7 linked regions of the Homo sapiens genome follow. The protein of the gene in region 3 purifies or fractionates together with the protein of the main gene of each other region. This does not show direct contact. Each region holds a gene or a part of one and is shown on either strand. Other genes may lie near its edges. The genes, in order: ART5, ITGA4, RLN1, SEL1L3, LMLN, SUSD1 and ECE1.

Evidence for each region.
Region 1: the proteins of RLN1 (region 3) and ART5 purify together in Homo sapiens (affinity purification with mass spectrometry; one large-scale study listed by BioGRID and IntAct). This does not show direct contact.
Region 2: the proteins of RLN1 (region 3) and ITGA4 purify together in Homo sapiens (affinity purification with mass spectrometry; one large-scale study listed by BioGRID and IntAct). This does not show direct contact.
Region 4: the proteins of RLN1 (region 3) and SEL1L3 purify together in Homo sapiens (affinity purification with mass spectrometry; one large-scale study listed by BioGRID and IntAct). This does not show direct contact.
Region 5: the proteins of RLN1 (region 3) and LMLN purify together in Homo sapiens (affinity purification with mass spectrometry; one large-scale study listed by BioGRID and IntAct). This does not show direct contact.
Region 6: the proteins of RLN1 (region 3) and SUSD1 purify together in Homo sapiens (affinity purification with mass spectrometry; one large-scale study listed by BioGRID and IntAct). This does not show direct contact.
Region 7: the proteins of RLN1 (region 3) and ECE1 purify together in Homo sapiens (affinity purification with mass spectrometry; one large-scale study listed by BioGRID and IntAct). This does not show direct contact.

What each region holds. Positions count from the first base shown.
Region 1 is NC_000011.10:3,639,193-3,643,378, forward strand, and holds the start of ART5 (ecto-ADP-ribosyltransferase 5 isoform a precursor), read right to left. Parts: upstream 2,801-4,186; 5' UTR 2,671-2,800; coding exon 2,614-2,670; intron 1,180-2,613; coding exon 450-1,179; intron 1-449.
Region 2 is NC_000002.12:181,533,886-181,537,385, reverse strand, and holds part of ITGA4 (integrin alpha-4 isoform 1 preproprotein), read right to left. Parts: intron 3,115-3,500; coding exon 3,016-3,114; intron 2,571-3,015; coding exon 2,451-2,570; intron 1,955-2,450; coding exon 1,859-1,954; 3' UTR 1-1,858. UniProt on the Homo sapiens protein: Integrins alpha-4/beta-1 (VLA-4) and alpha-4/beta-7 are receptors for fibronectin. They recognize one or more domains within the alternatively spliced CS-1 and CS-5 regions of fibronectin. They are also receptors for VCAM1.
Region 3 is NC_000009.12:5,337,077-5,341,116, forward strand, and holds the start of RLN1 (prorelaxin H1 preproprotein), read right to left. Parts: upstream 2,801-4,040; 5' UTR 2,671-2,800; coding exon 2,460-2,670; intron 2,352-2,459; exon of another isoform or gene 2,287-2,351; coding exon of another isoform or gene 2,186-2,286; intron 1-2,185. UniProt on the Homo sapiens protein: Relaxin is an ovarian hormone that acts with estrogen to produce dilatation of the birth canal in many mammals. May be involved in remodeling of connective tissues during pregnancy, promoting growth of pubic ligaments and ripening of the cervix.
Region 4 is NC_000004.12:25,845,989-25,849,488, forward strand, and holds part of SEL1L3 (protein sel-1 homolog 3), read right to left. Parts: intron 1,877-3,500; coding exon 1,306-1,876; intron 1-1,305.
Region 5 is NC_000003.12:197,970,217-197,973,716, reverse strand, and holds part of LMLN (leishmanolysin-like peptidase isoform 1 precursor), read right to left. Parts: intron 1-3,500. UniProt on the Homo sapiens protein: Metalloprotease.
Region 6 is NC_000009.12:112,043,291-112,046,297, reverse strand, and holds part of SUSD1 (sushi domain-containing protein 1 isoform 2 precursor), read left to right. Parts: intron 1-3,007.
Region 7 is NC_000001.11:21,231,464-21,234,963, forward strand, and holds part of ECE1 (endothelin-converting enzyme 1), read right to left. Parts: intron 2,199-3,500; coding exon 2,095-2,198; intron 1-2,094. UniProt on the Homo sapiens protein: Converts big endothelin-1 to endothelin-1.

The sequences.
Region 1 (4,186 bases), on a different chromosome or scaffold from region 3:
ACTCTTTCCAGATTGCCTTTCCATCCCTCTTCCCACCCAAGACCCAGTCACTCTTCCATCTCTCCCTGCCTTAGCACTTGGGAATGGCACATACGTGCCCTGTCAGCCCCATCGAGCCCAGGGCCCCCCTGAGACCTGAAGCAGTCCCCTTGGCTCTTTCTGCTGCTTGCTAATCTCCTTAACCAGGTTCTTTTGGTCTATTAGACCATGTAGCAGATGGACCCTTTTGAGGACATATAGAATCATCTAAGAATGTTCACGAATCTAGAAAACACTTATAGGACCCCAAAAAACCTGAGTCACAGAGGACAGCAACTCCAGCTGACTTCCAGCCCTCATTTCCCCTTTAACCAAGTGGGTCTCCCGAAGGCCCCGGGGATTATTGTGTAAGGACATCCTGGCTTATTTCACCCACACTGCCAGTCCTGCTTCCCCCATGCACAGCTTACCACCCAGATAGGCGCAGTTAAAATGGCTACAGGTCTGATTATAGCTCCAGAGAGTCACCAAGCTCTGGGCTCCATCCTGAGAGAATCTGGTAACCAAAAAGACTTCATGGGGGGGAATCAGCACCTCGCGCTCCTTGGGAAAGACAGAGAAGGCCTGTATAGGGGCCCCAAAGCAAGTTGTTAGAGAGAAGAGGGTGGCATTACCAAATCTGTGGGCCACTGCCTTATCCAGGGAGCTGGAGGCAAACTGGCCCAAGCGGACAGAGTCTCCCAGCCTCTTGGGTTCAAAGCGAAGGCTGCCCACACCTCGGAACACCACCTCCCCAGGTCCCCTGCTGCAGCCCCCACTGCCTCGCAGCAGCTGCAGGGCCCGGATCAGGTAGAAATGCAGGGCCTTGAAGGGAAAGTGCCTCATGTAGAGCTCCCGGGAGCCTCCGCCCGTCCGCACGGCCTGATTCAACTCCCAGTACAAGGTGTTCGATGAGTTGGTGTAGACCATAATGGCTATTCCATTCTGGGCTTTGAAGCCAGGGGGCAAGGTAAGCCCTCGACGCTTGTCCTCCCAGGTCTCCTGGGCTGCCTCCCAGGATTCCCGCAGCAGGGCATGGTGGGCCATTTCCTCCTTTAGCAGGGGGGCTGCCTTCTCCTCCATCTCCTCTGCACAACCCACATAGGTATCGTCAAAGGTGTCTGGAGCCAGGCCCAGGGGCAGGATGGGAACAGCCTGGGCCTGTGGAGCAAAAGAGGTGCCACACCGAAAAGAGCATAAGTTCAGAGCACTGGACATGGGTCCTGGGGGCAAACCCATCCAGAAACACAGAATCTCATTTCTATCCCTAAATATCAGGTATATGCAATTTGGCAAGGGCCCAATAAGAGGCTTAAATAACACAGGCACTGGAGTCAGTCAGACATGGACTGAAATCTTTTTTTTTTTTTTTTTTTTTTGATGGAGTCTTGCTCTGTTGCCCAGGCTGGAGTGCAGTGGTGAGATCTCGGCTCACTGCAAGCGCCACCTCCCAGGTTGGAGTGATTCTCCCACCTCAGCCTCCCAACTAACTGGGATTACCTGTGCATGCCACCATGCCTGGCTAATTTGTTTTTGTGTTTGTTTCTTTGAGACGAAGTCTCGCTCTGTTGCCCAGGCCGGAGTACAATGGCACGATCTTGGCTCACTGCAACCTCTGCCTCCCGGGTTCAAGCAATTCTCCTCTCTCAGCCTCCCAAGTAGCTAGGATTACAGGTGCGCAATACCACGCCCAGCTAATTTTTTGTATTTTTAGTAGAGACAGGGTTTCACCATGTTGGTCAGGCTGGTCTCGAACTCCTGACCTCAAGTGATCCACCAGCCTCAGCCTCCCAAAGTGCTGGGATTACAGGAGTGAGCCACCGCGCGCAGGCTGAAATCTTGACTTTACCACCTATTAGCTGTGAGGCCTTGGGCAAGTGTCATAACTTTTCTGGACTTGAGGATACTTCCAACCTCACAGTTATTATGAAGACAGCATAAAGAGCATTACTTCTGTACAACCTAAAAGGGGTCATCCTGTCATTAGAAAGGTTCTTGCAGTCGGTGGGAGGTGGGACTAGATGACTATCAAGCACTTTTCCGGCTGTAAGATCTGGCAGGCAGGTGATGTGCAAATATTACACACAGCCAGTGTCCAGCTGCCTAACCCCCAGCCCCATTCTCCTCGGGCTCTCTTTCCCTCTCATCCAGCAGGAAGCCCTTGCAGGTAGGTGCTCAGCCACCACACCAAATCACTGTGAGCTCTGAGACGCCTGAGTCCTCCCCTGCTCTGTACCCACATTTGGGGTAGGGGTGGTGGGGAGGCCAAGCCTTGGTTGGGACGGGCTGCCAGGACTGCAGCACACAGGTAACCCAAGGAGGCTTTGCCGGGCTGTGCCTGCGCTGGGAGATGAGAGGTGGGGAGGAGAACGTTGGAGGCATCCAGAGAGGGATGGAGATGGGGGTTCTAGGAGACAGAATGGGAACTTGGGGCTCCCTGCAGAGATGGAGGTTCCTGAGAGGAAGAGAGTTAAGAGTGGAATCCTAGGGAAGAGTCCCTGGGAGAGGGATGTGAGGAGTCAGCCCCGGGTCCACTTCCTCAGGGTCTGTCCCTTAATGTCCCCCTTGGGGCTAGGAGATGGTTCCTGGAGTTACCTGCCAGGTGTGGAGGCCGAGGCTGCCGAGGGCGATCATCAAAGCCGCCAGCGCCATCCCTGGAGGAGACGTGAGGGCCAGGGGTCCGGGTGAGGGCGGGACCAGAGGTGCTGGAGTCCTGGTTTCGAGGGGCTGGAGGCAGATCTGGACCCTGTCTCCAGGCGCACGGGATCCCGGGTCCAGGATTAGGGCCCCGGCGGGGCGTGGGCGGGGCCTGGGAGTTTATTGCCCGCCCCCCGCCCCAAGTCTCCGCCCCCGACTCCCCACACCCCTTCCTCAGAGCCTCCAGTCTGGGGACCTTTCCGAGACTGTAAAGGCGGGGCCGCAGTTTGGCTCCGCCTGAGAGGGGAGGGCCGGGGGCGGAGGACCCACTTGAAGGCTGCGGAAGCCGCCAGCGGGAGGGAGCGCCGAGGGCTCTGGCGGGCGCTGCGCTGTCCCCGGAGGAGTCCGGAGTCCGGCTGAAAGCAAAGGTTCTCGAGGCTAACTGTAGCCCCCGCGCTGGTAACCCGACACCCCTTTCCCAGCGCCGCACGCGGGGCCGGGAGCGGGCGCGCCAGGGCAGGGACTGAGGAGCAATTCCCTTTCTCAAGGCCTGCGGGGTCTTTCTGCGGGACCCTCTTTGGCTGTGAGTGATGGGGAGGAAACTTGTGAGACTCGGCCTCTCCCTCAGGCGGGCCCTGACCCGGTCGGCCCCTGGTCCCCGGCCCACCAGGCCAGGGGCCCCGCGGGGGTCCCGCCGGCCGAGAGGTCGCCCCCGGAGCACTGCGATTTGCATACAGTTTGCATTTGGCCCACACCCTGGGCCACGTGCTCCAGCATCTGAGCAGCGCCCACTCCCTGCCTGCTCTGGGCCCTCTCCCCATTCGCCTTCAGTGGGGTTGGGCCAGAGACAGAGCCCTTGGTCGCAGATCCACAGGGTCCGGTCTCGCCCCTCCCCCAGACCGCTCTCGTGGCCGCTCAGACTCAGGTGACCCATGTTTGTAAACACTGGCCTTTCCCCCACCTCCTCTGGGCTTATCTATAAATAACCTGGCTCTGAGTTTTGGATGCCCCGTCAGAGGTCATGGGAGAAGGGGCCAGCGGAGGAATTGGTAACTCAGGGAAGAGCTTCCTAGCAGCCAGAGCCAGGAGGAGGTGGGGTTGTCACCCCTCCTTCCCCCAGCGGCCGGAGGGTCGCCGAAAGCTAGGATTTGAGAAATGCTGCCTGCTGGGGCTGAGGTGGGCACGAAAGATTAGAGCTACCCAAAGGAATCCATCCTGGTCTGGCTCATTAATTTTCCCCATCCCTGTCCCCCCATCCCCTCAGAGTGTCAGCCAAATAAAAAGTTTCCTCCACCTAGAATCCTGCTATCTCCCAGAATCCTTTCTGTAGACCAAACGGGAAGACATACGGTGGGTCCAGGCTTGGAGGAGGGTGGGGAGGGAGGTGCTTCTGAGTGCTTGTTAGAAAAACAGCTCCAGGGCAGGGCGCAGTGGCTCCCGCCTGTAATCCCAGCACTTTGGGAGGCTGAAGTGGGAGGATCACGAGGTCAGGAGTTCGGGACCAGCCTGGCCAACAAAGATTAGCCGGGCG
Region 2 (3,500 bases), on a different chromosome or scaffold from region 3:
AGCCCAATATGTAATTGTGTTCCCCTTGTATCTGAGAGGCCTGTGTTGGACAACCATAGTACTCTGCTTTCACTGTGCTCAGATAACCTGAAATATATAGTTGTTTCTGAGTAGTTCTGAGTAGGAAAGAACCAAATGTAAATTTCCTTAGAGACCATCCTGGAGAAGACAGTTCTAAATCGGGGCTTGATTTTTCATCTATGATCCTAGATGTTCTCCTGAAAGAATGACTAGCCTTTTTATAACGATACAAAGTTTTTTAAAAATACATAAATGTCATAAAGTTTATTCCTGTGTATACACACTCTGGGTTCAGGAGGTTTTGTGCTTACATTTCACTACTCAAATGCCTTCGCAAATCTCAGAACATTCCTCACCATCACTGCAGGCCTGTGAACAGATAACTTTCATCAATTAGGATGGCTGGCTAGTGGCAGGGACTTCATATAAAGAAATCTTTCCCAGAATTGTTTTTCCACATTGCCTTCTAATTTGATCACTCCCTATAACAGATGTTCAAAATTCGGCCACAGCTCTCTTATGAAGGCAGAGTCAGATAAAATGATATTCTGCAATTATCTAGATCATAAGCATAAAATAAATATTACAAAAATGATTGTATTTAAAGAAATTTTTTAAAATCCAGAAAGTCATTTAAAATAGAACCTCATATAGTATGAACAAACTATAAAAATATTTTACATTTCATGAAAATTTTGCTGTCGTCTCATTTATATTCACTGTATACAAATTGAATCAGTATCTTTCAGCTAAATTTATGAATTTAAATTTATGAATTTTGTTTCTTCGTTTCCATGTAAGGTAACACTTATACTTGTAAAGGGTAACAAAGAATTACATCCAAGGAAATAGTTGTGTGATAGTCAATATTTTACATAGTACATAATACATATGAAGTATAGGCCCCCTAGTCTTTGCACAGCTTTGATTTTAAAGTTATTAGTGAGGTATGGTTTCTGTATTTTCTAAATCAGCGTGTATCAGGTAAAGTGCAACACTCACAATCTTTTGTTTCAGAATATAACAAAAGATTTGAAGATTACTCCTGGGTATGCTTGATAAAGGTGTGTTATAGGAAGAATAGATAGGAAGAATGGTAAATATATACCTACATAAAAACACATGTATATATACAGAAAGAAAGATGGTGAAATCCATAATTATAAAAAAATAATTATCCAGAAGTAATTTCACTAAGCTCAAACCAGTGTACATGTTCAGTCTGAAGTTTGCCAGTTTGGCCTATAATACTATAATATTCATAGTCTGCTGAAAAAAAATGGTTGTTGGAACACAGCCCGTAGGAAATGTATTATAAATAAAGGGCTTTAAAGTGATAATGGTCCACTCGTTAGAAAATTTGGGAACAGCTCTCTAAAAAATTATATTTTTAAAGAACATATTTTGAACAAGTATCAAAGATGTATTTGAAATGAACCTCTGCCCACCCAGTGGGGTTCATTTTACTGAGGCAAGCACATATGGTAAGTAGTATTTCAAGTCTAAGACTTCTCCAGTATAATTTAACTCAGTTATACTTTCATTTCAAGATATCTTCAAGGGCTTACTTTTCTTGAATAAATTGAATGCTTTAGTGTTTCTCTACCCATTTAAAAGCTGAGAGATTATCTTTGGCTGTATTATTACCTTTGCAGTTCTTCTATCTCAAAGAGTAATCATTGCTGAGATTTTCCCCTTGCATGAAGACATAATATGTCACAAGATCATGAGTAAAAGAAGTCCAAACAAAATTCATTTTTTCTTGTAAACAGTGTCTTTTAAATTTCTTTACTACAACCTGAGTCTGTTTTCCATTCTCTCAATTTGAAAGAAGTCCTTAATCATCATTGCTTTTACTGTTGATATAACTCCAACTGTCTCTTCTGTTTTCTTCTTGTAGGATAGATTTGTATTGTCTTTTAAAGAAGCCAGCCTGAAAATAGCATAACATAATCACTAGTGTATAGTTATGAACACTCTCTTATCTACTATACTCATTTCTAATATCTAAGCAGTTAACACCAATATTTCTTAAACTGCATCCCTTGTAACATCAGTCATAAAGGTTTAACAGAGGTAATCAGTAAAAATTAGTGGGGACATACTGGGTTAAAGAAACATTTTTGTTTTTAATGCAGAAATTCTCAGTGATACACACCACATTCTCTCCAAAATTGACATTCCGTGTAATTTGCAATCTTTTCCAAATGGTTTTTTAAAAGGAACGTCTGTCTTTCAAAACAAATTAAGAATGCATATTTTTCTAGAAAGACTTTGGTGTTGAAGAGAAATGTGAGATCAGTACTGAGCAACATAAAAAGTTAACATTCAAATAGTGAAATATTTAAATCTAATAACTTGGAAGTCAAATTGGCTTTGAGAAAATGTCATTTTTAGTAGACTAATGTTGGTAATTGTTAAATGCTTACCTTCCACATAACATATGAGATCAATAGAAGTACAATAAGTCCAAGTAGCAAGCTACTTGAAATAATCACTATGGTGAAATAACGTTTGGGTCTTTGATGATGTAGTCCTTCCAGTAGAACCTACGTGAGTTAAGAAAAATAAAACTCAAAAACCAAAAAAAAAAATCAGTTTAAAACGTTGCTTATATTTCCTTTAAAGCCCTGCCATAATCCCCAGTAGTATTTAGAACTGCCCAGCCCATTTTCTTGCTGGTTCTAATATAATTGCAGGAAACACTGGTAACTGTTTAGCAGAAACAGTGAGTGTAATGGGCTGTATCCATGACTTTTCCTCCAATCTATTCAATTCTCACTGCTGCCCAATTCACCTCTCTGAAAGAACTGCTGTATTGTTCCCTCCTGCCAGTTGTGGAAAATGCCAACTCTCAACCAAGTATTGGGGGCCCTCCATGAGCTGGTCACACTCTACTTTCCCAACTCAGTTACTCAGAAGGAAGTAATTATAGACACCCTTGAAATGTGTTTTCCTATAATTTTAATGTAGCAGTTAAGAGGGTAATCTTACATGCGCAACATTCTCATCCTTGTTTAGTTCAATTACTCTTGGATTTGGCTCTGGAAAACCTGTTGCTCTTATTTCAAACTTGAGTGCTGAAGTCTCATCCTGTTTAATAAAAGAAGGATCACCATAGCCTGGTTTATTTCATAAAGACATAATTTATCAGGATCTTTACCTTCTAGCTAGAGGTTTTCACAATTTACCTTCCCCAATTTATTTCACCACTTAAAATTAACTGCAGTGCCTCCTTTGGTTCCCAAAGTGTGGTCTTGGTATTAATTTATATAGTATCATTTTATTGAAATCCTTTGATTAAACAGCTACCTTGCAAATAACTTGATTTAAATATTAGACTACAGAAAGAGGTAAGTTACCATTTACCATTGTTCTCCACCCCACCACCGCATATTGAATCTATCTTATTTGGGCTTTTTATTTCTTTCTAAATTAAATACATTATAGAATTCAAATATAAAATCAGTGGATGAACT
Region 3 (4,040 bases):
AAATGACAGATGAGAATTTATATCATTTTTGGTTAAATGACAGGTTTTGGCATTTTCCCTCATTAAGACATCCTAAGTTTAATTCAATTTCCTCATAAAAACGTCTCTGTGCTCCAACCTAAACTGTCTGTAGTTGCAGTCTTATTAAATGCTGAAAAAAGCTGATGGTAATTTTCTGTATACTTAAAGCCAGTTAAATGAATCAGCCAAAACAGTTATAGATTGTATTCAGTTTATTCATAGGCTGTGTGTTTTGAACTTTTATTAAAATTATATTTTTAAACCTGTTTTGAAATATTTCATAATCCATAACACTTTTAGCTATGGAACCTAGGCTCAGAGAAAATATTCTGTCTGAATTCATGCAAATACCCTTAATTCACTGTATTTTGGATGCAAATCTTACTGAAATAGATCTCTGGTTTAAAGCGGATCTTATTTTTAAAAGGGATGCAGTGAATATTACTTTGGCACACATTGTAAGATAAAATGGTTATCTAACAGTGTAATAACGTGAAAGCAAGTAGCAATTACCTAACAGTATAAGTCTGAAAACTCATATTAATCACAAATTACTGACATGTACTTCCAAAGCGATTCCTACCTAGTAACGGTAAACATTTATCTTAATCCCACGTGCAGGCAATATTTTCTGAGGTTACTTTCAGTTAAATTATACTGCATAGCAATAAAGAAAATTCTTTAAAAATACTTTGAAATCTCATGTCTCTTCTAAAGAAATAAAAGTGTAGCTAAATATCTATATACAAATGTGATTAATGATTTTCAGCAACAATTTAGAAATAAACTAAATATCCACCAAAGAATCTTTAAGTTTATGTGGCAGATTTATGACAAAAATACTACACAGGAATTTCAAATTATGTTTTGGGATAATAACAATGTGAGAAACTGCTCAAAGTATAATGGTGAGTGAAAATGCAAAAGATATATACATATACCTATCCAAATGTTAACATTTCTTTCCACTTACTTGTTTAATATAATTTCATTTTCTCATAAAATTCACATATACTTTTCAAAGTCCTTAATATCTACGAGTGCTTCTCATTTTTCACGCTGCATTAATGTACATTTGTCTTTAATATGAGCATTACTACTTTTATAGTCAGAAAATGTGGAATAATAAAGCAAATGCAATGCAATCCGGTCTTCTCTACTTTTTATCACTAAATTCCTAGACGTTGTGGTATTTTTGTACTAATGTTATACAAAAGTCATGTAAAAACTGCCATTAAATAAATCAAACTCTAACAATGTAGAAAAGTAAATAACTTTAGAAGCATACTTTAAATCTCATAAAAGAGAAGTAAATGTATTTCTGTTAGAGTCATTTATATATAGTATATGCATATAGCCTATAAAATTTAGTTGCGGTTTATCATAAATTACATGTCATACTAATACAAAACACTTAGTATTTGCAACTGCGGTTACTTTCTCTGAATTTAATATGACCCGTTACACTTCTTAGACTAGTATATACCTCCATGAGTTTCCACTGCTACTTTATAAATACTAAAATATTTTTAAAAGCCATTTCAGATTGAGCTGTACTCAACTCTAAGAGCTTGCCTTTAAAGCAAACCCACTGCAGCTTCCAAATGCTTGAAAGCATCAGTAGGGTCTTCAGCTATGATGGTCTGAACGGCCTGCTTTCCTTGTCTCTGGTCCTCTTGAGTTTCTCCTAAAGGCATTCAAGCCTTTCCTTTCTCTTCCATCCCCTGCCTCACAAATGAACTTCAATACCCAGATCAAAGAAGCGGGAGGTCAGACTCTTTCCTTTGGGATTTTCTGTTTGTTTATTTTAAAGAACGTTTCCAATGGCAAAGGCCACAGCCCAACTTCTGGACTAGGAGAGTCATTAAGTGTAAGGCCCTTCCTGTCTTCCCATCACGGGACCCTCACAGAGACCTCAGAGTGTTGCCCCGTCCTACAGGCGCGCAAACAGGCTTGATAACTAGCGCGCCGCCTCAGTGTTTGTCCCCTCTCCTCTCTATCCGAGAAGCCCTGTTCAGGTGCCCCCACCAGCACGCCCGCTGTCTGGCCGCCTGGCTTTCCTGTGGGGTGCAGGAGTGCGCCCGGCCTCCTGCGGGTCTCCGGGCGGCGTCACCTCCTCTGAGGCTTCCCCTCCCTTTCCACCCCGTCGCTCTGACTGCCTTACGGAAAGGGCACCAAGGAACTCTCGGGTGAAGCAGCTTCCTGTTCTCAGTGCTTTCCCTCCGTCCGGTGAGATTCCCAGTGAGACTGTTTGAATAAAATCACCTGGCAAAGGAAAAGCCCAAACTTTAGGGACCAGCCACGGCTGAGTAGGGGCTGAGCGGTGGCAGCCAATGAGATCTCGAGTCGGACGTGCAGGCCGCCGTTCCAATTGGGCGGCCGCCCCAGAGTAACCAATGGGAAGCGCGGGAAGGCCGGGAGGGGGCGGGAGCTCTCACCTGCCACTGGTCTAGGTGTCTGAGGAGCATCTTCCTGGCTCAGAGACCTTTTGCTCCAGGTGCTCATGCCGCAAATGGCAATCTGCGCGCGAACTAATTCGCGGCCGCATAATTTAATAACATCGTCCTTCCATTTGGCCGCGACTGCTCTGGAAAATTGGTTCAGTAGTAAACAGAATTCTAGCAGGTGGAACAAGAACAGGCGAGGCATCCTGGGCCTGGTCTCTCCTGGAGGTCTGGGTGTTGCAGCCTTTCAGGACTGCGGCTGCTGTGGCCTACACACCTGGGCCTGTGTGCCTGTCCCGGGCTTTAGGCTGCTTTCCCTACCCGGCTCAACCAGTCTTTAGTATGGGCTATCACTCAGCTTTTAAGGCAAGGTTGCCAGCTCCACCCCTTTCCCACACCCCTCCACAGAATTTTCTCCTTCAGCTCTTGTTCTGCCTCTCCGCCCTTCCTTCATTTGCCCATTCCTCTGTCCTTGGCCCTTTTACAGTTTTGTTTTTCGCTCTTTTGTTACCCTGAAACAACTTTGTATACTTAGGTAAAGTTATTTTAGATATGAAGCCTTTCTTTTTACATACACAGAAATAAAATTGAGATCGCCAATATTCTTACAACCCAGTTTTCCAGAGTGAACATTTGCCAAAAACCCTTCTAACCTAAATAGGATTATAGATTACCTTATAAATTGGATTAATTAGTATAATGTTGGGCATATCAATCCATAAAAATATAATGGATGAATGAATAAATTGTTGATGAGAGGGAAAACTGATGACTTTTAATCTGAATCCAGGTAAAAAGATTAAAATCCCCAGTAACATCATTTTAGGCTTGTGCAGTAATGTCTTTAATTTACAAAACAATTTCTCCATTGGACTTTCCTTCCACTCCTGTGGGAGAAGTTTGATTGTAACTAGTTGTCTAAATATTTTAATTTAAAATTCTAGTCTATGTCTCTGGAGACTGGAGAACACACCACACACACAGAGAGAGAGAAAGAGAGAGAGAAAAGAAGAAGAGAAAGAAGAAGGGGAAAAAAAGCAGTGGACATCCCACATTCCCAGAAATAATATTTTGATAACAAATTACAGCACAAGGATATGTTCATTTGTTTACTGTATTTTGTGTTTGCTGCACCTGGTTAGAGGTGATTCTTTTTTTATTACCACCACCTAATTTAGCATTTTAAAGATCCACACAGTTCTAGATAATATGGTTAGTAGACGACCCTTCTACCTGTAAATTTTTAGTACAAATAGGTTCATTTTTAAAAATAACTTACTTGCTTGTGTTCATAATATACTCAGATTAGTTCAGCTCCATCAGATAAACTGGAGACATGCAGGACGTTATGGTAGCTTTGAAATAAAATAATAACAATCTCTTAGTTACAAACATAACTATGGAATCAAGTAATTCTAATTTCTAGATTGCTGGTGATTTCAGTAGGCCCACTTAACATTGGTCAAATGCCAAGCAATGTGTAATTCTTCAAAAAATACCTGACCAAAGCTATGAGATGGTTAGAGGCAATTAATGATTTTAAATGGATTTTCACTAAAACACACAGTTTGAGAA
Region 4 (3,500 bases), on a different chromosome or scaffold from region 3:
CCTGACTAAGTAGATGAAGGACTGGGCCTAGGAATTTGCATTTGCAACAAGCATTTGTGATTCTGTCACAGGTGGTCCTAGGGCCACAGTTGAGGAAACAACTGGGCGCATGTGTGGGGAGGGCTCCCCACTGAGGGGGCAGAAGAAGAGCTGGCAGGCACTCGGCATCCACAGAGCAAGGCGCTCCTTGCACCAATGGAGAGAACTTCAGAGTGCCGCCTCTCAGCACATGCCTGAGATCTCCAGCCCCACGGCTTAAGGGAGGCTGCAGAAGGGCCTTGGAGCCTCCGGGATTGGTCCTGCTGAGGCTGTGACCATGTGGCATTTAGGATAAAATGCAGAGTGTGGACTCTATCATCATCACAGCTTCTCACTGAGTGCTGATGATGTGCTGAGCAATCACATCTCATTTAGTCCTCACAGCACTGCTCTGAAGGAACTGCTTGTTATCCCCATTTTACAGATAGGAAAACTGAGGCTCAGAGACTTCCAAGGTTACAGAGATAGAAAGTGGCAGGACAGGAATCAGGCCCAGCCAGAGGTTACCATTCTGTGGTACAACCTCCCTTTCTGTTGGAAGGGTTCCTTTAGGTTCTCATCTCCTCCAGGATAAAACACTCTGCTTAAAAATAATAGAGGCCCCGGCATGGTGGCTCACACCTGTAATCCCAGCATTTTGGGAGGCTAAGGCAGGCAGATCGCCTGAGGTCAGGAGTTTGAGACCAGCCTGGCCAACATGGTGAAACCCCATCTCTACTAAAAATACAAAAATTAGCCTGGCATGGTGGTGGGTGCCTGTAATCCCAGCTACTCGGGAGGCTGAGGCAGGAGAATTGCTTGAACCTGGGAGGCGGAGGTTGCAGTGAGCCGAGTGAGATCTCGCCACTGCACTCCAGCCTGGGCAACAGAACAAGACTCCATCTCAAAAAAAAAAAAAAAAAAAAAAGAGGAAACTTTAGCAGGCTTGTTGGAAGGTGAGTGGGAAGATTTTCCCAATCCTTGTTTCGGTGGCATGAATACTCCTTTCCAGCTTAAAGCAGATCTAACCCTCTCAAAGTCCACCTTCCTCAGCTCCTCTGTTCTGTTCTTTCATCTTTGGTCCTGCTCTCTCCTAATCTTTCTCCTCTCTTCCCCTTTTAATTTTTCTCCTTTTGTCTTCAAACTCCAAAGTTACAGACTCATTGTGTCCCTCCATCTTCCCTGTATCCCCCTTCGCTAATAGAAGAATTTTCTCTTGCCATTCGATCATGATACAGGCTATCTGAAAAAATGAGAATTAGGTTCCTAGCAAGATAGATGACCTACCATTTTCCAGAGGACACTGTGGAATCCTGTTTGCCCGAAGGTTCCAAATATAACCCATGTTCCACTCAAGGCACACTTGATGATCTTTGAAAGGGCGTTCAAAAGGCGGGATGGTCTGCAGGAGGGTATAATTCTTTGCTACAGCATGGAGCAAGTTTTCCTCCCATTTAACATTCCAGTCTCTGCCACTGTATTTGTGAGTAATCCAGGCGCGTACTATCACTGCAGATACAGAGATGGAATGTCTGATGAAATAATCATCTCTGTAAACCATAATGCTTGGAAATTTCACATGTACTATTTGTGTCCTGCTGGTGTGAAGATGTTTCTCATTCTTCCACCTTTTTTTGTACACGGGAATGCTACTTCTGAACTCAGATGAAACAACTGCTTCCAAATTGACAACACAAGGCTGAGAGCATAAATACTCAACCGAGACTTCAGAAACGTTGCGAACGTTTCCTTCAAAGACAGTAAAATAAATAAAGTCTTTGTAAGCCACGCTCTGCTCAGCTTTGGGTATCACTGATGTCGTCAGGGAAGTCTGCCTACCCAAAGATGGTACAACATTCTGAAAAAAAGAAAAAGAAAGTAAGAAATACAGAAAGTTTAAAAATCCTCATCATAACAGATACTTGAATCATTATTTTCCTGGGATAAAAAAATATCAATCTACATAAAGCAATGAATGAATGCGGGAGATAAAAGATGTCAAAACCACTACTGAAGAATTGGGGAAAAACCAACACACAAATACAAAGGAAGATGAGGCCACATTAAACTCTCTCCCCAGACACAGTAACATCTGCTGATCAGAATGTGACTGTCACATCTACATGGCAATAATTCCAGAGTTGGTTTTCAAAGGCAGAAGTTGGTTCACAACAAATCCAGTAGCAAGGGAACCTGCCTTAGAATAAAACAGAGACAATGCAGCTTCAGACATTTTCAAACCATTGTCCTGACTTTAAATGGTGGGTCAGACACTACCAAATCAAAGGGTGGCAGAAAAGTGAAAAGTGCACCCTCGAGGGAACATAACAGGGATGCCAACCTGGCCCCTTTTTCTCCCATAAGTTTGAAGCCAGGGCAAGCCTGCATGATATATGGACAGGCAAGAGGCTTCTATTGCTCCTGGTCACACACAAGTAAGCTCAGACGATGGGCTGTGTTGTCTGATTCTTTCACCACAGACAATGCTACATGCACCAAGAAGGATTTTAGCTGAATGTTTATTTATCTGGTCATGAAATCAATGCAAGGTTTTGAGCATGAGGTGCTGATATGTGAGTGCTAAGAGCTCTCCTAAATATGACTTTGTGATTCAAGTATCCAAAACACAATAGAAAAAGGTCACTTTGGACCACTGCATATCCATTAGGGTGGCTATTATTAAACACACACAACGCATACACACAGAGAGAAAATAACAAGTGTTGGTGAAGATGTGGAGAAACTGGAACCCTTATGCACTCTTAATGAGAATGTAAAATGGTGTGGCTACTATGGAAAATAGTATAGCAGTTCCTCAAATAAATTAGACACAGAATTATCATATGATCAGACTGGGCGTGGTGGCTCATGCCTTCAATCCCATAACTTTGGGAGGCCCAGGTGGGTGGATCACTTGAGGTCAGGAGTTCAAGACCAGCCTGGTCAACATGGTGAAACCCTGTCTTTACTAATAATACAAAAATCAGTTGGGCAAGGTGGTGCACACCTGTAATTCCAGCTCCTTGGGAGGCTGAGGCAGGAGAATCACTTGAACCCGGGAGGTGGAGGTTGCAGTGAGCCAAGATCACACCACTGCACTCCACCCTGGGCAACAGAGTGAGACTCCATCTCAAAAAAGAATTATGGTATGATCAGACCCAGCAATTCCACTTCTGGATATACACCCCAAAAATTTAAAGCAAGGACTTGAAGAGATGTTTGTACACCCGTGTTCATAACAGCATTACTCACGCTAGCCAAAAGCAACCCCAAGGGTCCATCCATGGATGAATGGGTAGAAAAAATGTGGTATATACATGGGATGGAATATTATTCAGCCCATAAAAGGGAATGAAATTCTGATGTATGCTGTAAAATGGATGAACTTTGAGGAGATGAGGCTAAGGAAAACAAGCTAGACACAAGAGAACAGACATTATATCATCCGCCTACATGAAGCACCTAGAGTAGTCAAACTCACA
Region 5 (3,500 bases), on a different chromosome or scaffold from region 3:
CTACGTTTGATCTATTAATATAACATAGTAACAGTCACAGATTTTCACAATACGTATTGCCTGCTCTGCTATGATGGCCTGACACCCTACTTCCAGTATTTTACTCATTCCATTCCAACCTATCTCCAGGTAACAGATTATTTTATGGCCCTTAAAAAACCATCAGAGGCCAGACACGGTGGCTCACGCCTGTAATCCCAGCACTTTGGGACTTTGGGAGGCCGAGGCAGGCAGATCACAAGGTCAGGAGACTGAGACCATCCTGGCTAACATGGTGAAACCCCATCTCTACTAAAAATACAAAAAAATTAGCCGGGCATGGTGGCAGGCGCCTGTAGTCCCAGCTACTTGGGAGGGTGAGGCAGGAGAATTGCTAGAACCCAGGAGGTGGAGCTTGCAGTGAGCCGAGATTTTGTCACTGCACTCCAGCCTGGGCAACAGAGCAAGACTCCGTCTCAAAAAAAAAAAAAAATCAGAAATGTCTGAGCACAGCAAATGGATATGGTACATTTTAGCAATCCATTACATGACTAACCTCCCCACAGATAACACATTACAAAGTCCGGACAAAATATACTGTCTGACAGTATTTTGGGGAGGGAGAAAGACAGAATCTGGAAGAATCTACTCTTGGAATACAGGAATTGTATCTCTGAGATTTGCAAGTCTAACTTTGGCTTGAGAGCACTACCTAATCTGTGTCTCTTGGAGTGGCAGGAAGTCAGAGCCTCACTGGCTTGAGGAGCTACAGCAAAATGTTCAGAACTTGTATCACCAGAAAATTAGAAGTTAGAGAGGAAATCTTGCAAGAGAAGAAGCCACAGAAGGTACCCCAAAATCTGCATATGAAACCCAGTCAAATATTTGACTGACCACTAAATTCCTTGGCTGACAACGAAATTACATATGTATGCGATAAAACCCAGCAAAGAATAAATGTTGCCAACAACAGGAGATAAGAGTTTGGAATTTTGAATACAGTTAAGTTAAACGCCAGCTACAAAAAAAAAAAAATTATTCAGAGAAATACAACAGAATCCAGACTTTACAATATATTATCTATGGTGTCCATTATTTAATAAAAAATCAGCAGCAATGAGAACAAAATGGGAAAATGAGATCCACAATGGGGGAAAAAGCAGGGAATAGAAACAGACCCTAAGAGGACCTGAATTTAAACAACTAGTTTAATGCAGCTGAAATGTGTTCAGGAACTTAAAAGAAAACATACACATAATGAGTAAGCAGATAGTGAACCTCAGAAGAGACACTATGAAAAGAACCAAAGAAAAAAGAGCCAAATGGAAATTCTAGAGCTTAAAAGTATAACAATTAAAATGAAAAATTCATTGGGGCCGGACACGGTGGCTCATGCCTGTAATCCCAGCACTTTGGGAGGCTGAGGTGGGTGGATCACTTGAGGTCAGGAGTTCCAGACCAGCCTGGCCAACATGGTGAGACCCTGTCTCCACTAAAAATACAAAAATTAGCCAGGCGTGGTGGTGCACACCTGTAATCCCAGCACTCCAGAGGCTGAGGCAGGAGAACTGCTTGAACTCGGGAGACGGTGGTTGCAGTGAGCCAAGACTGCACCATCACCCTACAGCCTGGGTGACAGAGCAAGACAGTCTCAAAAAAAAAAATTCACTAGAAAGAATTAAAAGAAGATTGGAGATGGCAGAAGCATCAGTGAACTTGAAGATAGATCTAGACATTATCCAATCCGAAGAAGAGAAATGAAAAAGACTAAAAAAAAAAAAAAAAAAAAAAAAGAACAGAGACTCAGAGAATGGGTACCAAGCAGTCTAGCAGATAGGTAATTAGAGTCCTATAAGGACAGGAGAAAATATGAGACAGAATATATATTTGAAAGAAATAACAGCTAAAAAATTTCAAATTTGGTGAAAGACATCAACTTACAGATCCAAGAAGTTCACTAAACCTCAAGCAGGATAAAAAACAAACAAGGCTGGGCGTGGTGGTTCATGCCTGTAATCCCAGCTCCTCAGGAAGCTGAGGCATGAGAATCACTTGAACCCGGGAGGCGGAGGTTTCAGTGAGCCAAGATCGTGCCACTGCACTCCAGCCTGGGCAACAGAGTGAGACTTTGTCCCCAAAAACAAACAAACAACAACCAGGTACATCATAGGCAAACTTGTGACATCTAAAAATAAAGATAAAATATTGAAAGCAATGAGAGAAAAACAACACATTTTATATGGTTTGGCTCTGCATCCCCAGCCAAATTGCATCTTAAATTGTAATCCCACATGTCAAGGGAAGGAGGTGACTGGATCATGGGGGTGTTTCCCCATGCTGTTCTCATGATAGTGAGTTCTCACAAGATCTGATGGTTTTATAAGCAAGCCTCTGGCATTTCCCCTGCTTGTACTTCTCTCTCCTGCCACCATGTAAAGAAGGTCCTTGCTTCTCCTTCATCTTCCACCATGATTGTAAGTTTCCTGAGGCCTCCCCAGCCATGTGGAACTGTAAACCACTTTCCTTTATAAATTACCCAGTCTCAGGTAGTATCTTTATAGCAGTGTGAGAACTAATACAACATTATACATAGGAAGGGAAGAGAAGTACGAATGGCATTGACTTTCTGTGAAGAACAATAAAGAACAGAAGACAATGAAATAAACAGGAAAGGGCTAAAATAAAGAAATTCAACACAGAAGTCTATATCCAATGAAAGTACCCTTCAAAAATGAAGAGGAAATAAAGACATTTCACATACATCTGAGAAAACTGATCACCAGCAGACCTACACTACAGGAAATGCTAAAAGAAGTTATTCGTGGGAATGGAAATAACACAAAAGGGTAACCTGTTTCTGTAGGAAGAAATAAAAGCTATTGGAAATGGTAAATACGTGAATAGATATGAAAGACTATTGTGCAGAAGAGTCAACACAGCAGGTCAGAGATTGCTGCTCTCTGTAGGAAGTCCTGCTTGCAAGGTTGACCTTTTGCTGGCATCTAGAAGTGTAATTTAAAACTTCACTAGGTTATAAGGATGGCTCATTGTGTCTAAACTATTTGCAGAAACAATATGGTTTATGTTGAACATTTGCTTGCTTCTGGAGTCTGAAATTTCAGTGGCTGAAATTTTGTCTACGTGACCAGCCTCCAATAAAAACCCTGGACTCTAAGAATCAGGTAATCTTCCCTGGTAGACCACACTTTGTGCACGCTGTCACAACTCACTGCTGAAGGAATTAAGCAGGTCCTAAGTGACTCTACTAGGAGAGGACTCTTGGAAGTTTTTGCCTAATTTCCTCTAGTCTTTGTCCCATGATCCTTTTCCCTTTGCTGATTTTACTTTGTATGCCTTCACTGTAATAAATCTCAGCTGTGAGTATGACGACAAGCTGAATCTAGCGAGGCCACCTAGCAATCACCAAACCTGGAGTGGTCTTGGGAATCCTCAACACAATTATACACACTTCTTTTCTTCTGTTAATTTCTTTGGAGACAAATAAATATTTAAAGCAAAAA
Region 6 (3,007 bases), about 110 Mb from region 3:
GTAGGGTAACCAAAGGATGGTGAGGCTATAAAAAATACAATTCAAATTTGCCAGTTGTAAATTTTCTTATTAAGGAATTAATGAGGAAAGTCTCTAAAGAAGCTTGTGTGGCAACACTTGTGAGCACTCTTGATTAGATTGACTCAGATTTTTAGAGTATATATGCAAAGTAGACAAAAAGACATATAACCAGGAACTGATCTACCAGCAAGAATCATTCCTGGAGCCAAACCCAAATTGTGCTATGCAGAATAAATAAAGATCATTTTCCAATACTATGTCTAGAGTAAGGAATAGTTGTGCCCAGGTAGATCCTGCTGGTGGATGGTCAAGTGAAAGTCAGCTTCCTTAACTCCTACTTAGCTTTTGTCCTCTTCGTTTGTGAGGGGATAGTTAGAAGAAAGAAAAGAGCTTGCTACCCTACATAGGTTCAAGTCTTCCAACATGGATGTAGCGTATTCTGGCAGGTTCATACAATTTTCACATGAGATGGATAAACCATTGCAAATGATCTTCAATAAACCTTGAAGAAAATGGAGAGATGTAAGAGGACTAGAGATGAGCAAAGAACAAGGAACTTTGTACAAAGGAAGAACCACCAGAAGTGTAGATGATGGTAACTTGAAGTCAAGGCAAAGCAAGGTCTTCAAGTGATGGCTTGTGTATCCCTGGTAGAAAAAACAGCAGTTCCCGGGAGTCAGGAGCTTTAAGAGCAGATTAGGTCAGATTGCTTTCCATTTCTTCTTGCACAGAGTCAGTAATTGGTCAGGGAAATATGGCACGCATAATAACAATAATGTCCTTGTGGACAATGTGGGGACATGAGAGCTGTATGTGGGCTTAGAAACAAGCTGAATGGCTATGCACAGTTGATATCAACTCATTAACAATTATTGATGAGTTGAAATCAAACCCAAGAATATGCATGATATGGATTTCTGTCCACAGTCATCTTCAGTTCAACATATTCATCAATCAGTGATTAAAATATACAGAGGGTTAAAGTGTAGAGGAAAAAATACACAGAAAAAAACTTGATGTCAGAAGTTGGAAGGAATACTGGGTAGATCGGATGAAATGCCAGTGCAGTAAAGTACCAGCTCCCCCGTTCATCTCCAGAATTGTATTTTCTCTTAAAAACAAAACAAAACAAAACAAATCTAGTTAATTAGTCCACCAAGATGGCATTTAAAAAAATGTTTCTGAGTCATGCACAAAGATGGCATCTTAATGCCTTAATTTGCATTTTTATTACTTGTAAGAGAGCATTTGCTCAAAGTTTTATTGATCATCTGTAATCATGTTTTTCATGTGATTTACCTTTTCGTAGAATTTTCTCATTTCGCTATTGAGGTATGTCTTTATTAATCTGTAACACTCTCTGTATGTTAACTTCTTGCCCATTATTCTAGATATTTTATCCAGCTTGCCATTTGCCTTTTAATCTTGCTTATGGTAGTTTTTGGTATAAGAAGTGCATGCTTTTTAAAGTGGTTAAATCTCTCATTCTCTTAAGGTTTCTGTGTTAACGAATATGCTTAGAAATTTCTTACCCCCTTTAATATTAGGTAAATATTCACTAACATTTCCTAATCCTTTTAGGTTTCAATTTAAGTCTGTAATCCATCTGGATTTTATTTTGATATATGGTGTAAGCTCTAGTGATCAAAATTATTTGATTCTAAATGGTTAGCCAATTTTCTCAGCACTGGTTATGAAAAATTTATCATTTCCCCAATGATCTGAAACAGTATCAAAACAACAAAAACAATAATAATTAACAATAGCTAACATTTGCTTATTGCTTATTCTGTGCCAGGCACTGTTTCAACCTGTACTAACTCACTGACTTCTCCCACTACCTAGAGGTGGGTAGTATTGCTATCATTCCCATGTTATTACAGCATCCCTCAGTGTGGGGACTGAGACACAGAATGGATGAATAACTTGCACAAAGTCACACAGGCAGTGGTGGTGTTCAGATAAAGACTTGGACATCTGACTCCAGTATTCAAACTTTGAAAGTATTTGATATGCTTGGATTTGTTTCTAGGCTATTTTGTTCCAATGTATTCATTCCTATTCTAATACTGCACTGTTTTACTGTCTTGCAATTCAAGTCACTCTCCTAATATTTTTTCTTTACTAATTCTTCACTTAATCACTGTTTCTCCTTCCATTTTATAATCTAGTTTCTTGGCTGGGCATGGTGGCTCATGCCTATAATTCTAGCACTTTGGGAGGCCAAGATGGGCAGATCGCCTGAGGTCAAGAGTTCGAGACCAGCCTGGCCAACATGGTGAAGCCCTGTCTCTACTAAAATACAAAAACTAGCCGGGCGTGGTGGAGTACACCTGTAGTCCCAGCTACTAGGGAGACTGGGGCAGGAGAATCGCTTGAATCCGGGAGGTGGAGGTTGCAGTGAGCCGAGATCATGCCACTGCACTCCAGCCTGGGTGACAGAGCAAGACTCTGTCTCAAAAAATAATAATAAATAAAAATAAAATAAAACAAAATAAGTAATCTAGCTTCTTAAAGTGTCAAGGCCATTTTTCTTCTATAGACTAAAAGCAACCAAATAATATAAGCCATGTTTTCTAGAAAGGCTCTTGGCAGCATTTTTTGAGAATTAGTAACCGCCCAATGAGTTTTCCTTGCCTGCTGCCTAGACAGAGCTGATTTATCAAGACAGAGGAATTGCAATAAAGAGCTTAATTCACACAGAGCCAACTGTATGGGAGACTGGAGTTTTATTATTACTCAAATCAGTCTCCCTGAAAATTCAGGGATGGGGTTTTTAAGGATTACTTAGTGGGTAGGGGGTAGGGGATGGGGGGGTCAGTGAGTCAGAAGTGCTGATTGGTTGGGTTGGAGATGAAATCACAGAGTCGAAGCTGTCCTCTTGCACTGAGTCAATTTCTGGTTGGGGGCCACAAGATCAGATGAACCAGTTTATGGATCTGGGTGATGCCAGCCGATCCATGGAGTGCAGGGTCTGGAAAATATC
Region 7 (3,500 bases), on a different chromosome or scaffold from region 3:
CCCAAGTAGCTGGGATTACAGGTGTCTACCACCATGCGTGGCTAATTTTTGTATATTTAGTAGAGACGGGATTTCACCATGTTGGCCAGATTGGTCTTGAACTCCTGACCTCAAGTGATCTACCCGCCTTGGCCTCCCAAAGTACTGGGATTACCGGTGTGAGCCCCCGTACCTGGCCAAGAACTCTATTTATGTATTTATTTATTTTAGAGACAGGGTCTTGCTCTGTAGCCCAGGCTGGAGTGCAGTGGTACAACTGTAGCTCACCGCAACCTCAACCTCCTGGGCTCAAGCGCATGCTACCACGTCCAGCTAATTTTTTAAATTTTTTGTAGAGATGGGGTTTCACCATGTTGCCCAGGCTGGTCTCAAACTTCTGAGCTCAAGAGATCCTCCCACCTTGGCCTCTCAAAGCGTTCGAATTACAGGCGTGGGCCGCTGTACCTGGCCATATGGAGGAATTTAAAACATCATATTTATATTCAAATAATCACAAATACTTCAATGGGTAGGCAAGGAAATTTAAATAAAAACATTCAAGCTAAGTTAAAATACTTCAGATAAACTGGCAACAGAGCCTATGCCATGTTCTGAAGGTAAAAGCCCACCTTCTTGTACATAGCGGGGTGTCCTGGTTGGAGGCTGGAAATGAAGGAAATAGAGATGTTTGAACCCCTATAGTCCACCAGGGGGCACCAGAGGCAAAGAGAAGTTGATTGCACCCTTCCCTAAGATTTATCCCAAATGTTTGCACTGAGGAATGGAAGGACCTTGGACTGAAGACTGGAACTGGGCTGACTACATCTAATTTTTTTGAGGAGACAGTTTTTTTTTTTCTTTCTTTCTTTTTTTTCAGGCAGGGTCTCGCTCTGTTGCCCAGGCTGGAGTACAGTGGCATGATCTTGACTCACTGCAGCTTCGACCTCCTGGGCTCTAGTGATCCTCCCACCTCTGCCTCCCCAGTAGCTGGGACTACAGGTTCGTGCCACCACGTCCAGCTAATTTTAAAAATTTTTTGTAGAGACCACATCTCCCTATGTCGCCCAACCTGGTCTTGAAGTCTTAGGCTCAAGCGATCTGCCCACCTCAGCCTGCAAAGTGCTGGGATTGCAGGCCTGAGCTACTGTGATTGACCTGAGGAGACAGTAATAAAAAGGACAAAGACCAGGTCTCATTCTAGGTTATCCTGATTTAAGGTCAGGAAGCTGTATTTTTTTTTTTTTTTTGAGATGGAGTCTTGCTCTGTCACCCAGACTGGAGTGCAGTGGCACGATCTCGGCTCACTGCAACCTCCGCCTCCCGGGTTCAAGCAATTCTCGTGCCTCAGCTACTCACTCCTGAGTAGCTGGGACTACAGGTGTGCGCCACCACACCCGGTTAATTTTTGTATTTTTAGTAGAGACAGGGTTTTGCCATGTTGACCATGGCTGGTCTCAAACTCCTGGGTTCAGGTGATCCACCTGTCTTGCCCTCCCAAAGTGCTGGGATTACAGGCGTGAGCCACCACGCCCGGCCAGGAAGCTGTATCTTTGAAAAAGTTCCCCAGAGGACTCTGATGTGCAGTGAGCTTTGGGAAGCACAGCTGTCAAGCCCATCCAGAACCTTCCCCAGGCCTCTGTGGGCTCCCTGTCCTGAGATCCCACCATTCGTGGTAGTGAGGAACAATGGGAAAGCTGCTCTTGCTGGGGCCTCCTTGGGGTCTGGCGCTCCCCAGAGGTCCTCACATTTGACTGCCATGAGGACCCCAGAACCAGCTCCTCCCATCCTATTCTGCGGAAAATGAAATGAAGGCTCCAAATCCCAAAGCAGTGGAGCGGAGACAAGGTGCCAGATCGGCTCCGCTCCAGAGGCCAGGCTCACCCTGCCAACAGGCTGGGCAGGCTCAAGCCCATCCCAGCTCCTAGCTGGGCCATACTTCTTTTGCCCTTGGTTTCTTCATCTGAAAAGTGGGATAACAAGGGCATCCACTCTTCAGACGGCTCTCGTGATAGCTGATCGGGTGCACAGTGAGGGTGCAATGAAGGCCAGTTCGTCCCAAGGCTTGCCCACAGGTGGGGAGCTGGCACCTTGCCGGCAGGGCCTGGGGGAACTCACTGATCTCTGTTGGGGGCTTTCCTGAGCTGATCGGCAGTGACCCTCCATGAGAAGTTGAAAAACCGCATGGCATTTTCAAAGTAGAGGTCTGGAACTGCAGTGTACTAGAAAAGAAGAAGTGGAGTCAATCACAGTGTGCCCTCGGTGGTGTGCATCTTCCAAGACAGGAAGCCAAGGGCTGTCATGGTTAAGAGATTAATCTGCAGGCTGGAGACCGGAATGCAGGGCTTGGGGCTGCAGGGTCAGCTCTTCTCTTGGCCTTCACCCTGGGGCACGAGATGGAATGACACCGTTGCAGGATGTGCCTACAGCAGTGCCTGGGCCCAGGCAAGAAATATCTCCCATGTTGTCCAATAGAACCTCCTGCGATGATGGATGTTCTGTGCTCTATGCCTGCGCTGTCCAGTATGGCAGACTACTAAGCATTTCTTTCTTTCTTTTTTTTTTGAGACGGGAATCTTGATCTATCATCCAGGCTGGAGTGCAATGGCACGATCTTGGCTCACTGCAACCTCCACCTCCTGGTTTAAGTGATTCTCGTGCCTCAGCCTCCCAGAGTAGCTGGGATTACAGGCGCATGCCACCAAGCCCAGCTAATTTTTGTATTTTTAGTAAAGACGGGGTTTCACCACATTGGCCAGGCTGGTTTCAAACTCCTGACCTCAGGTGATCAGCCCACCTTGGCATCCCAAAGTGCTGGGATTACAGGCGTGAGCCACCACGCCCGGCCACTAATAAGCATTTCAAATGTGGCAAGTGTGGCTTTTAAATTTAATTTAAACTAATTTAAGTTTTAATTATTTAAATAGCCACCTGTGGCTAGTAGCTACCATACTAGATCTCATAAGTAAAGTAGAAATCTATCTGAACTGTCAAGGGCATCACTGTACACCCTTTTCACTACTCGGCCCAGCTTTCTAGCTTTTTTTCTGCTTTTTTGAGACAGGGTCTTGCTCTGTCGCCCACGCTGGAGTGCAGTGGTGCAATCACAGCTTGCTGCAGCCTTGTCTTCTTGAGCATAAGTGATCTTCCCATCTCAGCCTCCCATGTAGCTGGGACTATAGGCACATGCCAACATGCCCAGCTAATCTTTACATTTTTTGTAGAGATGAGGTCTCACTATGTTGCCCGGGCTGGTCTTAAACTCCTGAGCTCAATCAATCCCCCCACCTCAGCCACCCAAAGTGTTGGCATTACAAGCATGAGCCACTGCGCCTGGCTCAGCTCTTGACAGGTGCAAAATTCTCCCTGGTTCTGGTGAAACGCTGGAGCCTCAGGGACAGGACATGGATCCTGGGCTCTGCCCAGGATGCCTCCAGAGGCCCAAGGATCTTGCGTCATGACACTCTGGAGCATCTTAAATGATTCTCAAGGAAAAGGCAGCAGAATGAGTCTCATGATCTCAG